4 linked regions of the Homo sapiens genome follow. The protein of the gene in region 3 purifies or fractionates together with the protein of the main gene of each other region. This does not show direct contact. Each region holds a gene or a part of one and is shown on either strand. Other genes may lie near its edges.

What was found. The genes of interacting proteins can lie anywhere in the genome.
Region 1: the proteins of CCM2 (region 3) and SQOR purify together in Homo sapiens (co-immunoprecipitation; one large-scale study listed by IntAct). This does not show direct contact.
Region 2: the proteins of CCM2 (region 3) and PPEF1 purify together in Homo sapiens (affinity purification with mass spectrometry; one large-scale study listed by BioGRID and IntAct). This does not show direct contact.
Region 4: the proteins of CCM2 (region 3) and GPR107 purify together in Homo sapiens (affinity purification with mass spectrometry; one large-scale study listed by BioGRID and IntAct). This does not show direct contact.

Annotation. Positions count from the first base shown.
Region 1 is NC_000015.10:45,641,529-45,645,028, reverse strand, and holds part of SQOR (sulfide:quinone oxidoreductase, mitochondrial), read right to left. Parts: intron 1-3,500. UniProt on the Homo sapiens protein: Catalyzes the oxidation of hydrogen sulfide with the help of a quinone, such as ubiquinone-10, giving rise to thiosulfate and ultimately to sulfane (molecular sulfur) atoms.
Region 2 is NC_000023.11:18,801,645-18,805,144, forward strand, and holds part of PPEF1 (serine/threonine-protein phosphatase with EF-hands 1), read left to right. Parts: intron 1-2,247; coding exon 2,248-2,433; intron 2,434-3,500. UniProt on the Homo sapiens protein: May have a role in the recovery or adaptation response of photoreceptors. May have a role in development.
Region 3 is NC_000007.14:45,006,701-45,010,200, reverse strand, and holds part of CCM2 (cerebral cavernous malformations 2 protein), read right to left. Parts: intron 1-3,500. UniProt on the Homo sapiens protein: Component of the CCM signaling pathway which is a crucial regulator of heart and vessel formation and integrity. May act through the stabilization of endothelial cell junctions. May function as a scaffold protein for MAP2K3-MAP3K3 signaling.
Region 4 is NC_000009.12:130,098,906-130,102,405, forward strand, and holds part of GPR107 (protein GPR107 isoform 3 precursor), read left to right. Parts: intron 1-551; coding exon 552-627; intron 628-1,723; coding exon 1,724-1,797; intron 1,798-2,200; coding exon 2,201-2,318; intron 2,319-3,500. UniProt on the Homo sapiens protein: Has been proposed to act as a receptor for neuronostatin, a peptide derived from the somatostatin/SST precursor.

The sequences.
Region 1 (3,500 bases), on a different chromosome or scaffold from region 3:
GGTTTGACATTTTGGGGTCTTGCTAATCCCAGAGACTGCCCCTCCCAGGACTAGCTAACTCTGAGAGATGGTAAATGGCTTGCCTGGCTTGCCTATGACCACACCTTTGATATGTAAACCAATCAATCCAGAGCCATATTCTGAACCACCTCCTCTATTTGGCTTTAACCCTGCAAGAGGCAATTTTCCCCTGCCCTTATTATTCCAGGGCCAGGCATCAGACAACTACAACTATAGGCAGCTCATGAATCCTGGAGCACTCTAAAATTATTCAAACTAGCCAATCCCAAACCTAGCCAGCCCTTTCCCCTGCCTCACAATACAGTCTTTTGCCTGTTCTTTCCCCTCACTTTTTCTGCCCCTTCACCTACGCAGGTGCTTTCCCATATGGCCCCATGTGAGGTGTTATGCCTCCTGTTTCTAGGGAACTGTGAGTAAGAGCTTCTTCCTTCATGGCAGTCACCTCCTGATCTGTTGGCCTCACCATACTTGATTAAAACAAATCCCAGGTACGTTGTAATACATCTAGATTAAAATGCATGTGCCAACTATTCAGTCAGATGGAAGCTTTTACATGTTTAACACATTTTTGCTCGGCTTCTTCTCCTCACATATCCACTAAACTGTCAGGCGGCATCTTAAAAGCCAGGCGCGGTGGCTCATGCCTGTAATCCCAGCACTTTAGAAGGCCGAGGCAGGTGGATCACTTGAGGTCAGGAGTTTAAGACCAGCCTGGCCAACATGGTGAAACCCTGTCTCTGAAAAATACAAAAATTAGCCAGGCATGATGGCGGGTGCCTGTAATCCCAGCTACTCAGGAGGCTGAGGCAGGAGAAACGCTTGAACCTGGGAGGCAGAGGTTGCAGTGAGCCGAGATCGCGTCACTGCACTCCAGCCTGGGCACAACAGAGCAAGACTCCGTCTCAAAAAGGAGAAAAAAAAAATACGCCGTCTCTATGCCGTCTCTAAAATGCAATTTAATTACATAGTACCGAAGAATGTTACAATTTGTGGGTGATTGAGCTAAATTTTTATAAATTTTTGCAACTAAATAACATAGCTACAGTTTGAGTTTTTAAGGCAGTAACCGCTCTAGAAGAAGCAGCACGTGGCCTTCCTTTCCTTTGTCATATACTATCCTCCATTCTATTGAAACTTAAGATATCTTCTCCACCAAGAAAAATCTTCACATCTATTTTATCCATTTAACCTTGATAAAGGAGGGCATCAGCCAGAAGTGCTCAGAAAAGAAGGTGAGAAACAAGTTTTCTGCAGCATATAAGTCTATGTGCAAATTCAGGTTTATACCTACACTGAATTTGTCTCAATCACACAGGGGCTAAGTTTGCAGAACTGAAAATCAGGAAAGATAATCTAAGCTGAATTTTTATTAGGAGAATTTTTACCTGCGCAAATGATATACGATTAAATTACTTACATTTAGCTATGCTAAATATGTAAGTGTATCTTTGTGAAATAGACTTACATGAAATTCGCATGGTCACAATTCTGCTGCTGTTTAAGAATGTTTCCAGGCCAGGCATGGTGGCTCACGCCTGTAATCCCAACACTTTGGGAGGCTGAGGCAGGCGGATCATGAGGTCAGGAGATTGAGACCATCCTGGCTAACACAGTGAAACCCTATCTGTATTAAAAATACAAAAAATTAGCTGGGCGTGGTGGCACGCACCTGTAGTCCCAGCTACTTGGGAGACTGAAGCAGAAGAATTGCTTGAACCTGGGAGGCGGAGGCTGCAGTGAGCCGAGATCGCACCACTACACTCCAGCCTGGGTGACAGAGCAAGACTCCATCTCAAAAAGAAAAAAGAATGTGTCCACAAGTATTCATTGAGCGCCCACTGTATGTAAGGATGCAAGCTGAGAGACAGCAATTTCTCCAGGCCTGACCCCCTCCCACTCTTTTAGCTAGGGCATTGAGGCTTTACATGGGAAAACAAAGTTCTGGAAAGTGATCGCACAAAGGGGCAGCTTTGAGTAAGAGAATCTTCTGGTGTTGGAACAAATTAACCCTCCTGTTGGAGGAGAAACAAAACCAGTTTCACATGGGCTAATTTTGACAAATCAGTTAGGAGACTATTGGAGTGGTCCAGGTGTGAGCGATAAGCTCCTGAATTAGGTGTTAGCATTAGAAATGCAAACAAAGATTCAGATAAGATAGAGGCTGGGAAGAGAGAATAATTTCGGAAGACGTGGGAAAGGCTTCTGGAAGAAAAAAAAAAGTCAAAGTTGACATCTAGACAGCTGAAGAAAAAGGAATTATGTGAGCAGAAAAAGGGAAGTTATGTCAGGGACCTGTTCGGGCTACTTTTGGACAGTTGGGTTCAAGATTTTGAAAGGAGAATCACTTGCAATGAGAATCTCCTAACGGTGGATATAAAGGAGGGCAGTCTAGCGCTCTGGGAAGAGGGAGAAATGAGATTGGATAGGCATGTGTTACTAAAGTTTAGGTCTGAGAGCTTATTCCCAGACAATGGCAATTTGATCTAGGAGTCACAAAGCAGCAACCTGCAGGCCAAGTGCAGGCCAGAGCTGTGTTTTGCTTGGCTCACAGTGCTTTTCTTGAATTTTGAATTAGTCATCAACATTAAAAAATTTGGAGATCTCGACAAAAAATATTCCAGATTCTTGGCCTCTAACACTAAGCCCACATTCTCACATGGAAACTCTTGGCTGGAGCTGAGCAGTCATTGGTCTTCTCCACCATGCACAAGGTTTCAGTTCACTCCAGCCCCACTCAGCCTATGTTGTTCATTTGTTACCTGCTCAGCCCTGGTGTGCATTTCAGCCTGTGGTTACTGCTAATGGCAGTGAGAGCCCTTGGAAGGTCTTAATAAAACTGGATTTATAAAGAGTCCCCAGGGGAAGCTGAGAGGATGAACTGGAGCAATTCAGTTGAGTTCAGCATTTTTGATTGTTTACTAAATGCCAGGGATTGTGCTAGGCACTGCACAGCCAGTGATGGGTAAGAAGAGTCTGTCTGTTATAACAGGAAAGACCAGGAATATGAAGATCCATTAAGCGGCTGTTTCAGAAATTCAGGCACAGTGAGGGTGGGGTCTGAATGGGAACAGAGATGAGGGGTGTGAATGTGAGACACACATTGACATTTTTGCGACAATCAGCTATAGGGGATAAAGAAGAAGGAAGAATGTGAACGATGACATTATATCCACTTGTTCAGGTGAATATAATGAAGACAGGATGTGAGCAGCAATACTAGAATTACTCAAAGTGGAGTAAAGGTCCAAGGCACTGTGAGGGAGAAGGAAAGCACCCCCCTTGAAAACTGAATGAGTGTTGTTCCGAGAAAGGATAGCAGCTGTGCTCTTCCTCTTGGCACACCTCTGCTTGAGTAATGGCAGTGCTATTCTTGCCTTGTGTGTTCAGGAACTGGATTACTATACTGTTAACAAATAAAGAAAATGGAGCAATCTTCACTTAGCCCTGCAGGGCCATGTTGAAACTCTCCCTCTGGAGCT
Region 2 (3,500 bases), on a different chromosome or scaffold from region 3:
AGAGTTTTTCTCACCGCTTTAAGCTGTTATAGAAGTTTCAATAAAGAAACATTACAGGCCGGGTGCAGTGGCTCACACCTGTAATCCCAACACCTTGGGAGGCCGAGGTGGGTCGATCACCTGAGGTCAGGGGTTCGAGATCAGCCTGGCCAACACGGTAAAACCCTGTCTCTACCAAAAATACCAAAAATTAGCCAGGTGTTGTGGCGGGCCCTTGTAATCCCAGCTACTCAGGAGGCTGAGGCAGGAGAACCACTTGAACCCAGGAGGCGGAGTTTGCAGTGAGCCGAGATCATGCCACTGTACTCCAGCCTGGGTGACAGAGCGAGACTCCATCACAAAAAAAAAAAAAAGAAAAGAAAAGAAACATTACAGATAGATGAGAGCCACAAAGACGGAGCCTCCAATCTTTATGAAAAATATTATTTTGTTTTATTTTGAGATGGTGTCTTGCTCTGTTGCCGAGGCCACAGTGCAGTGGCATGAACATGGCTCACTGCAGCCTCAACCTCCTGGGCTCAGGGATCTTCTCACTTCAGCCTCCCAAGTAGCTGGGAACACATTCCGGCACCACCACACCTGGCTAGTTTTTATTTTTTAAGTTTTTGTAGAGATGGGGTTTTGCCATGTTTACCCAGGCTGCTCTTGAATTCCTGGACCCAAGCATTCCTCCTGACTCAGCCTCCCAAAGTGCTGGGATTACAGGCATAAGCCACTGTGCCTGGCAGAAAAATGATTTTAAAAATTTGGATCTTTAGTCCTGGACATCATGTAACCTGCATTTGCCTCTCCTGCGCCCCAAAGGAAATGTTATAATAATACAACACTTGTGGATTTAGAACACATTATGGAAACCAGTCATTTACTAAATGTATTGCGGAAACTGAGAATGTACTTACCATCGAGGGGGGAAAAGTGAAGGAGATGCTTTAGGAGACACCCTCAGATAAACAGGTTTCCACATTTGTGTTGGGAAACAGCAAGGGCTTCCTCAGGCTATGTGCTCAACAGGACAAAAACCTGGCCCAGAGCCACAGCAGGAGACCTACTTTATGTCTTTGAACATATTAAGACACACCTAATGTGTGGGCATTGTGGGGAGCTAATTTCTTCCCTGAATGTGACAATGAAGTTCTTTTAAGAGAAAAGAACCTTGTAGATTCAACAATTGTCAAACAATTGTGATGGAATTTTTAAAGCCAAAAAAACAAAAAAAAAATGGCAAGGCCTGATTCTTGGTTATTGTTATTGCTGTATTGGTTATTCATGGAGGAGATGAATATGAAACAATATTCTTTTTTCTTTTTCTTTTTTGCGGAGACCAGCTCAGTAGGGGAGACCCTAACCCAGCAGCGCTAGAGGAATTAAAGACACACACAGAAATATAGAGGTGTGAAGTGGGAAATCAGGGGTCTCACAACCTTCAGAGCTGAGAGCCCCAAACACAGATTTACCCACGTATTTATTAACAGCAAGCCAGTCATTAGCATTGTTTCTATAGATATTAAATTAACTAAAAGTATCCCTTATGGGAAACGAAGGGATGGGCCAAATTAAAGGAATAGGTTGGGCTTGTTAACTGCAGCAGGAGCATGTCCCTAAGGCACAGATCGCTCATGCTGTTGTTTGTGGCTTAAGAATGCCTTTCAGCGGTTTTCCGCCCTGGGCAGGCCAGGTGTTCCTTGCCTTCATTCCCGTAAACCCACAACCTTCCAGCGTGGGCGTTATGGCCATCATGAACATGTCACAGTGCTGCAGAGATTTTGTTTATGGCTAGTTTTGGGGCCAGTTTATGGCCAGATTTTAGGGGGGCCTGCTCCCAACAATTTTGAGACAGGGTCTCTGTCTGTCACCCAGGCTGGAGTGCAGTGGAGTGATCATGGCTCACTGCAGCCTCAACCTCTCAGGCTCAAGTGATCCTCCCATCTCAGCCTCCCTAGTAGCTGAGACTATAGGCATGCACCACCATGCCTGGCTAATTTTTGTATTTTTTGCAGAGTTGAGGTCTCACCATGTTGCCCAGGCTGGGCTTGAACTCCTGGCCTCAAGCACTCCTCCCACCTCAGCCACCCAAAGTGCTGGGATCACAGGCATGAGCCACCACGCCAGGCCTGAAACAATTTTCAAGGAAGAATGAGAAGTGGTCTTTGGGATACCTTGGGTTAATATTTCTGACAAATAAGTTGGAATCTAGAAAGATATACTCTCACTTGTAAGTTACAGCGAAATCTGGTTTGTTGTTCCAAGATTATTGATATTCTGTGGAGTGATCCCAGAGGCAAAAATGGCTGTTTTCCAAATACGTGCCGAGGAGGGGGCTGCTATTTTGGACCAGATGTTACTTCCAAGATTCTTAATAAATACCAGTTGAAGATGCTCATCAGGTCTCATGAATGTAAGCCCGAAGGGTATGAAATCTGTCATGATGGGAAGGTAAGCTAAAATTGTTGGTGACATTCCCATAAACATCCTTCCCCTAAGCACAGTCTTTTCTTCACAGAGCATGTCTGGCCTAGAAGCCCATGAGAAGATGTCTTCTCTAGTACCAAACAGAAACCAGAGAAGGCGAGCTTCATCTAGGTTGTTTGAAGGGGCCTCACTGTCCCTTATCCTAAAAGATATTTGGTTTATTTCCCTGATCTTCCCTAATCCCAGAAACAGAAATTCTTTTTTTTTTTTTGAGATGGAGTCTCACTCTGCCACCCAGGTTGGAGTGCAGTGGTGTGATCTCAGCTCACTGCAACCTCCGCCTCCCGGGTTCAAGTGATTCTCGTGCCTCAGCCACCCAAGTAGCTGGGATTACAGGTGTGCGCCACCACACCCAGCTAATTTTTGTATTTTTAGTAGAGACAGGGTTTCACCATGTTAGCCAGACTGGTCTCAAACTCCTGACCTCAGGTGATCCGCCTGCCTCGGCTTCCCAAAGTGCTGGGATTACAGTCGTGAGCCACCGCGCCTGGCCCCAGAAACAGAAATTCTGATACATGGCACTAAGTAGACACACAGAAAGGCTTGGTTCTTATAAGGCAACTGTCCCATACAGTGGGGTTGAGAATGTCCTTTTCCTCACAGAGCGCATAAAAGGCAGCAGTGAATCCAGTTTGCTCTTGCACTTTTTACATGTTCCCTGTGCAGGGCCCAAAACACAAAACACACTTCCCTTCAGCTCCCTGAGTAGGTGACCTCCAGCAAGTTGCTCACTGTAGTCAGTTTAGCTGCAGCCACTAAAACGGAGTGTGTTGTGTTCCTTCAGTGGTGTCTGATCAAAGGCTAAAAGAGGTGAGGACCGAGGAGCTGGTTTCTTGTCCCAAGTTGTTCTGGGATGCACCGTTTCTTTTTTTTTTCTTTTTTCTTTTTTTTGAGACAGAGTCTCGCTGTGTTGTCCAGGCTGGAGTGCAGTGGTGCAATCTCGGCTTACTGCAACCTCCGCCTCCCGAGTTCAAGTGATTCTCTTGCCTCATGCTCCCGAGAAGCTGGGATTACAGGCGCCCGCCACTACG
Region 3 (3,500 bases):
AGTGGCTCACGCCTGTAATACCAACACTTTGGCAGGCCGAGACAGAAGGATTGCTTAAGCCCAGGAATTCAAGACCAGCCTGGGCAACACAGTGAGACCTCGTCTCTACAAAAAATAAAAAAAATTAGCTGGGCATGGTGACAAACCCATTTAGTCCTAGCTACTGAGGAGACTGGGGCGGGAGGATCACTTGAGTCTGGGAAGTCAAGGCTGCAGTGTGCCATGATTGCACCACGGCACTCCAGCCTCTGTGACAGAGTGAGACCCTGTTTAAAAAAAAAAAAAAAGTGTGTATTTCATTGTTACATAATTTTACATCAAAAGAAAACTGTAAGCAAATATTGAACCCTAGTTAATGACATGCATGCTAATGTATTTAGATCAAAGTGAAACAATGTCTGCAATTTATTGAGGAATGCATCAGAAAAATAAAATGAGTTGATGGGCAGGTACAGTGATAAACAAATGCTAGATATGGGATAAAACAAGTATAGCCAGGCCAGGCAGGGTGGCTCATGAGTGTAATCCCAGCACTTTGGGAGGCCGAGGTGGGCGGATCATCTGAGGTCAGGAGTTCTAGACCAGCCCCACCAACATGGTGAAACCCTATCTCTACTAAATACAAAAACTTAGCCAGGCGTGATGGCACATGCCTGTAATCCCAGCTGCTGGGGAGGCTGAGGCAGGAGAATCGCTTGAACAAAGGAGGCGGAGGTTGCAATGAGCCGAAATCACGCCATTGCACTCCATCCTAGGTGACAGAGTGAGACTCCGTCTCAAAAAAAAAAAAAAAAAAAACAAGTATAGCCAACGTTAGTGGCAGAATCTAGGTGCAAGTATTCACTGCAAAATTCTTTCAACTTTGGTGTACTCAAAAATTTTTTTTTTTTTTTTTTTTTTGAGACAGAGGCTCCCTCTGTCGCCCAGGCTGGAGTGCAATGGCGCAATCTTGGCTCACAGCAACCTCTGCCTCCCGGGTTCAAGCGATTCTCCTGCCTCAGCCTCTGGAGTAGCTGGGATTACAGGCACACACCACCATGCCCTGCTTATTTTTGTATTTTTGTAGAGATAGCATTTCGCCATGTTGGCCAGGCTGGTCTTGAACTTCTGATCTCAGGTGATCTGCCTGCCTTGGCCTTCTAAAGTGCTGGGATTAGAGGCGTGAGCACCGTGCCTGTCCCAAAAATTTTCATCATAAAATGCTGAGGGTGGAAGAATGTGCTGGAAAAAGCAAACACGGAGGCTGCACATACCTCTTTCAAGAAAGACGGACAATACTAAGTGAGAGGGGGAGCCTTAGAAAGGAACTTGAACTCAGCCTGATATTAGAAGTGCACAGGCAGGTGGGCTATGGTTATTGTCTATACCCAGTAGCATGAAAAGTAAAAGCTATGTAAAGGTGATGTATCTAATGGCAGTAATAAATTAGCTAGACATAATCATATCTAGGGCATTTTCAGACATCTGACAGAAAATCAACATGCACCATAACTGACACTTAGACCTGACCAAGGCATCTCATTAAGAACATGTACCCTTGGCCGGGTGCGGTGGCTCACGCCTGTAATCCCAGTACTTTGGGAGGCCGAGGTAGGTGGATCACCTGAGGTTGGGAGTTTGAGACCAGTCTGACCCACATGGAGAAACCCCGTCTCTACTAAAAATACAAAATTAGCCGGACTTGGTGGCGCATGCCTGTAATCCCAGCTACTTGGGAAGGCTGAGGCAGGAGAATCGCTTGAACCTGGGAGGTAGAGGTTGTGGTGAGCCGAGATCGCGCCACTGCACTCCAGCCTGGGCAAGAGCAAAACTGTCTCAAAAAAAAAAAAAAAAAAAAAAAAAAAGAACATGTACCCTTGGCCAGGCACGGTGGCACACAGAGGCACACATTGGTCAGGACTTCGGGAGGACGAGGCGGGTGGATCATGAGGTCAAGAGATCAAGACCATTCTTGCCAACATGGGGAAACCCCATCTCTACCAAAAATAAAAAAATTAGCCGGGCATGGGAACACGCACCTATAGTCCCAGCTACTTGGGAGGCTGAGGCAGAATTGCTTGAACCCAGGAGGCGGAGCCTGCAGTGAGCTGAGGTCATGCAACTGCACTCCAGCCTGGGCAGCAGAGCAAGACTCCACCTCAAAAAAAAAAAAAAAAAAAAATGTACCCCACCACATAAACCAACAAGGGAAACATTTCAGTTTCCACACCTGACCAGAGAGCTCATGGTGACAACACACAGGAAGCAAATTTGATTTTTTGAAAAAAACCTGTATGGAATTTTAAACTATAGAATAGACATAAAGATTTAAATAAAGGCTTCTCTCTTTTTTTTCTCCAAGGTACAAAAACAACATGTGAAATGGTTATCTCCCACTCCTCAACTAGGTTTCCCTTAAGAACAGTGACACCACGGGTTTAGGCTGACCAGTCTTCTCACTTTCAGAAAAGTGAAAAACCTCCTTGGGTTACAAGACACACCATCATCCTAAGCTGCAAACAAAAGCCCAAATTCCATGTTCCTATTATGCTTATTAAAGGGGATCACTTTCATTGCACATACATCTAATGCCTATGGTCAAATGCCCTAATTCTTAACATAATCCAAGCAAAAAATTGTTACTGTTTGGGCACACTTGGGAGAAAAAAAAAGGTCACATTTTTGGCACAGACACAAGGCTAAGGAAAAAAGTTCTTATTTTTACAAAACAAACAAACAAAAAATCCTAATGGTTCCATTGACAAATCCAAATGTAAACTCCCTCATACCTGTAGAATCATTTGAAGAGCAGTTGCTGTTCTTGATTGAAAGATAAAAAAGCCAAGGAGTGCGAAGCGCGCTAACAAAGATCCACTGTTCACAAGGACACAGCGATGCATGCAGAGGACATGGCTGGGCTCACTGCTCCCGCCACAGATCCCAGAGCACAAAGCCTGTCCCAGATGAAATGAATGACATCCCTGACTGTGCCAGCTCCCAAAACACCATACATGTTCTCCCAACCACAAAGAGTGTGCTGTGATTTATGGTTTACATACAGCACAGTGAGGGTTGTCCTGTCACTCTGAGCAGCTCGTCCGTGGCCATGTTGACAGTGTAGACTTGGTCCTCAGAACTCACCCCAGAGACCCTAAGGCAGCCAGCAGATGAGGCCAGAATGACCAGCAACATAAGGCTTGTTACTCTTCTGTCTTGATGAGTTACTACTGCACTTCTATCTACAAACTGAACTCTAGGGTTTGCTTCAAAATCACCTGGTGCATTAGCCTTCTTGGGCTGCCAGGACTAAGTATTATAGACTTGAGTGGCTTCAATAATAGAAACTTATTCTCTTAGAGTCTAGATGCTGAAAGTCCAAGATCAAGGTAAATTTAGCAGGGTGGTTTCTCCTGAGGTCTCTCCTTGGCTTGCAGATGGCTGCCTTCTCCATGAGTCCTCCAATGATCATTCCTCTCTGTGTCCTAATAACTTCCTATAAGGACATCCATCAGATTGGATTA
Region 4 (3,500 bases), on a different chromosome or scaffold from region 3:
GTTGAGGCGGTGGGGGGGCATCACTTGATCCCGGGAGGTGGAGTTAGCGGGGAGCCAAGTTTGTGCCACTGCACTCCAGCCTGGGTGACAGAACGATACTCTTGTCTCAAAAAAAAAAAGTTTTAGCTGGGTACAGTGGCTCATGCCTGTAATATCAACACTTTGAGAGGCCGAAGTGGGTGGATTGCTTGGCCAGGGGTTCAAGACCAGCCTGGGAAACTTAGCAAAACCCTTTCTGTATAAAAAATACAAAACAAATTAGTTGGGCATGGTGGCATACACCTAAAGCCATCCTCCCACCTCAGCTTCCTGAGAGCTGCTTGATCGCTTGAGCCTGAGTTCAAGGCTGCAGTGAGCCGTGATGACACCACTGTCCTCTAGCCTGGGCGACAGAATAAGACCCTGTCTCAAAAAAAAAAAAAAGTTTCATGTTTGTGGTTTGCACAGATTATATTTCCTGTCTCCTTATAAATATAGCTAATGTCTGGAGCTTTGGCTGTCCTTTGGGAGAATGGAATCTTCCTTTAATTGTTTTCTCTCTGTTTTTATAGGAATGATGTATTTAAAATCCACTGGCTGATGGCGGCCCTTCCTTTCACCAAGTCTCTTTCCTTGGTGTTCCATGCAGTATGTATTAGCATTTTGAGGATCATTCATGAAATTACGTATAATGCCTGTGTGAGCAGGCAAAAGAAATTTGAAGAAAGGGGATAGATTGGTGGGAAACAAAGACAAAGAATACATTTCTCATAAAGCCTCCTCTTGTCTGGGAGGGCCTGGCCATGCGGGTAAATGATTACCACCTCCCCTCATATTAGACTTCAGACATCTTCTAATACTGCTTACAGACCTACAGTTTTTCTAGAACACTTATTATTGTTTTTATTTCTTTGTTTTTGGTTTGTTTTGTTTTTTTACCATTTCTAGAGATGAGAGTGCCACCTGCTGACTTGTTTCCACGACTTTTTTTTTTTTTTTTTTTTTTTTTTTTTTTTTTTTTTTTTTTTGAGACGGGGCCTCGCTCTGTTGCCCAGGCTGGAGTGCAGTGGCGTGATCTCTGTTTACTGCAAGCTCCTCCCCTCAGGTTCACGCCATTCTCCTGCCTGAGTCTCCCGAGTAGCTGGGACTACAGGCGCCCGCCACCACGCCCAGCTAATTTTTTTGTATTTTTAGTAGAGACGGGGTTTCACCGTGTTAGCCAGGATGGTCTCGATCTCCTGACCTCGTGATCCGCCCGCCTCAGCCTCCCAAAGTGCTGGGATTACAGGCATGAGCCACCACGCCCGGCCTCCACGACTTTTTTATGTTTCCAGATATTCCCTCATGTTCCTCTGTGATTTGAAGTTCAATTCAGTATTAGCATATTTATCTGAGAGAAAATTGATGCTATAAAGCTGGAGGCATGAGAATTGAGCCTCAGCTTTGTATATTTGGAACTTATGCAAATTAAAATGAACTTGCCCAAGGGGGTAAGATCACAACTTCTCCTGTCTGTGGGCCTCCAAGTGCCCGTGGAGCACACTTGCAAGGATGACAGTCTCTAGACATGTACTCTTTGCTGTACTTGAAAGTGGCCTCCTTGGAAAAGGCAATAATATATCCAGTGGCAGCGTCACCAAATGACAATGATTTGGATAATTTCCCAAATGGGTCCAAGTTAAAAGATTCTTTGTGGAGCCATGTAGATAATGAGTGATTCTGAAATGCAGTTGTTTGATTTCAGATTGACTACCACTACATCTCCTCCCAGGGCTTCCCTATCGAAGGCTGGGCTGTTGTGTACTACATAACTCACCTGTAAGTATGCAGGTCCATGTGAAATACACCATGAAATGACATACAAGACAAGGGGGGTGGGCAACAACCTGCCCCAAGTTAACCAGCCCTGCCCTCCTGTGGCAGCCTGTCTGGGCCCCTGCCATACCAGAGGAGTGTAGCTCATGGGTGGCTGTCCAGACTTGGGAAGTCGGGCTTAGTGGCATACTCCTGCCTCTCTGCGGCCATTGGCTGTCCAGGCTGTGGGGTGCAGAGCTAACTGTGTGCCCTGAAGGAAGTGGTGCTCATGTATGATGGATTTCCTAAATTTGGCTGCCCGTCTTTTGTAAGAAGCTTGTGAACTCATAGAATGAGCTATGCAATCTAACTGGCAGTGAGAGTCTAAAGAGACCTGCTGGTGTCTGTTCCTTGTTTTCTCTTCCAGTTTGAAAGGGGCGCTACTCTTCATCACCATTGCACTCATTGGCACTGGCTGGGCTTTCATTAAGCACATCCTTTCTGATAAAGACAAAAAGATCTTCATGATTGTCATTCCACTCCAGGTAAAAGAACCCTCATCCCATTTGTCACTTCCTTTCTTGGCGCTTAGCAGGGCTCAGCTCCAAGCCTGTATGGGAAGAGGGAGTCACCTCACCCTGAAACCCCAGCTTCTGCTAGTGGAGGTTGAAGACTGAGATTCTCTTTCTGAATTCTGAACAGACTTCAGGTCATTGCACTGGGAGATGCTTGGGCATCAGTCAGCCACTGGCCTTTGGGGGCCTAGATTTTGAGTAGAGAGCTGCTGACAGTGACAGGGAGACACACAGTAACACACAGTACTGTTTTCTCTTCTGCATCATTTGCTTCATAACTAAATGGTGCCCTTGGCAAGGAAGCTCAGAGATGTAGTGATTTTATTAACAAAGTATTTTAAAACCGTGAACTACACCAGTGAGTTTCCACAGGTAGAATATGGTAGTAGACGTGAGGGGCAAACATTTCCTAAATCCTTACCATGTTTGGGGCCGAGGGCCAAGGCCAGCCTTACAAGGCTGTGAGTCTTTTGCGGGAGGAGCCTTGTCTTACTGGAAGCAGAACTTGGATGTAAAGAACTTACAATGAACAGAGAGGTTTTAGCAGGGATGCACAGCTACCCTGCTCTGCTTGACCAGACAGCGTCTGTTTGACAGAGTTGTCCCTGTGAACTTTTCTCACATTTTGGAGCACAAAGTAAATGTGGAAGGTTGGGGGTGGAAGGGGACAACTCCTGAGGCACCCAGATCAGCCGTCCCAACTCTGGCAGAGTTTGCAGCAGAGCTCCTCTCGGAGTTCTAACAGACCTCATCCACCCTTACGTTCAATAATGAGGAACATGTGTTGACATCAAATGAATGGGACAGGCCAGTTGCTCTGTGTTTCCAAGGAGAGAATAAGCACTCAAGTTGGAAGGATCAAGGAGGGCTTTGTGACAGAGATAGGGCTGGCCTGGGTGTTGAAGGAAAGGAATGTGACAGAGGCAGTAAATACACATGACCCTGCTGTCTGCTAAGCAAAACATGCTGAGGGACTGTGCCGGTCTTTCGGCTGTCGAGCCACCGTGGTCACTTCTTCAGCCAGACTGAGTCCTACAGCCTGCCGAGGTCTCGGAGTTGTGAATGACGGAGACTGGGTTGTCACCCGGCTGCGTGTGCCTCTTCCCTTTAGTAGAGTCCCTCATCCCTCTAGAGTCTCCCCCCACCAGCCTG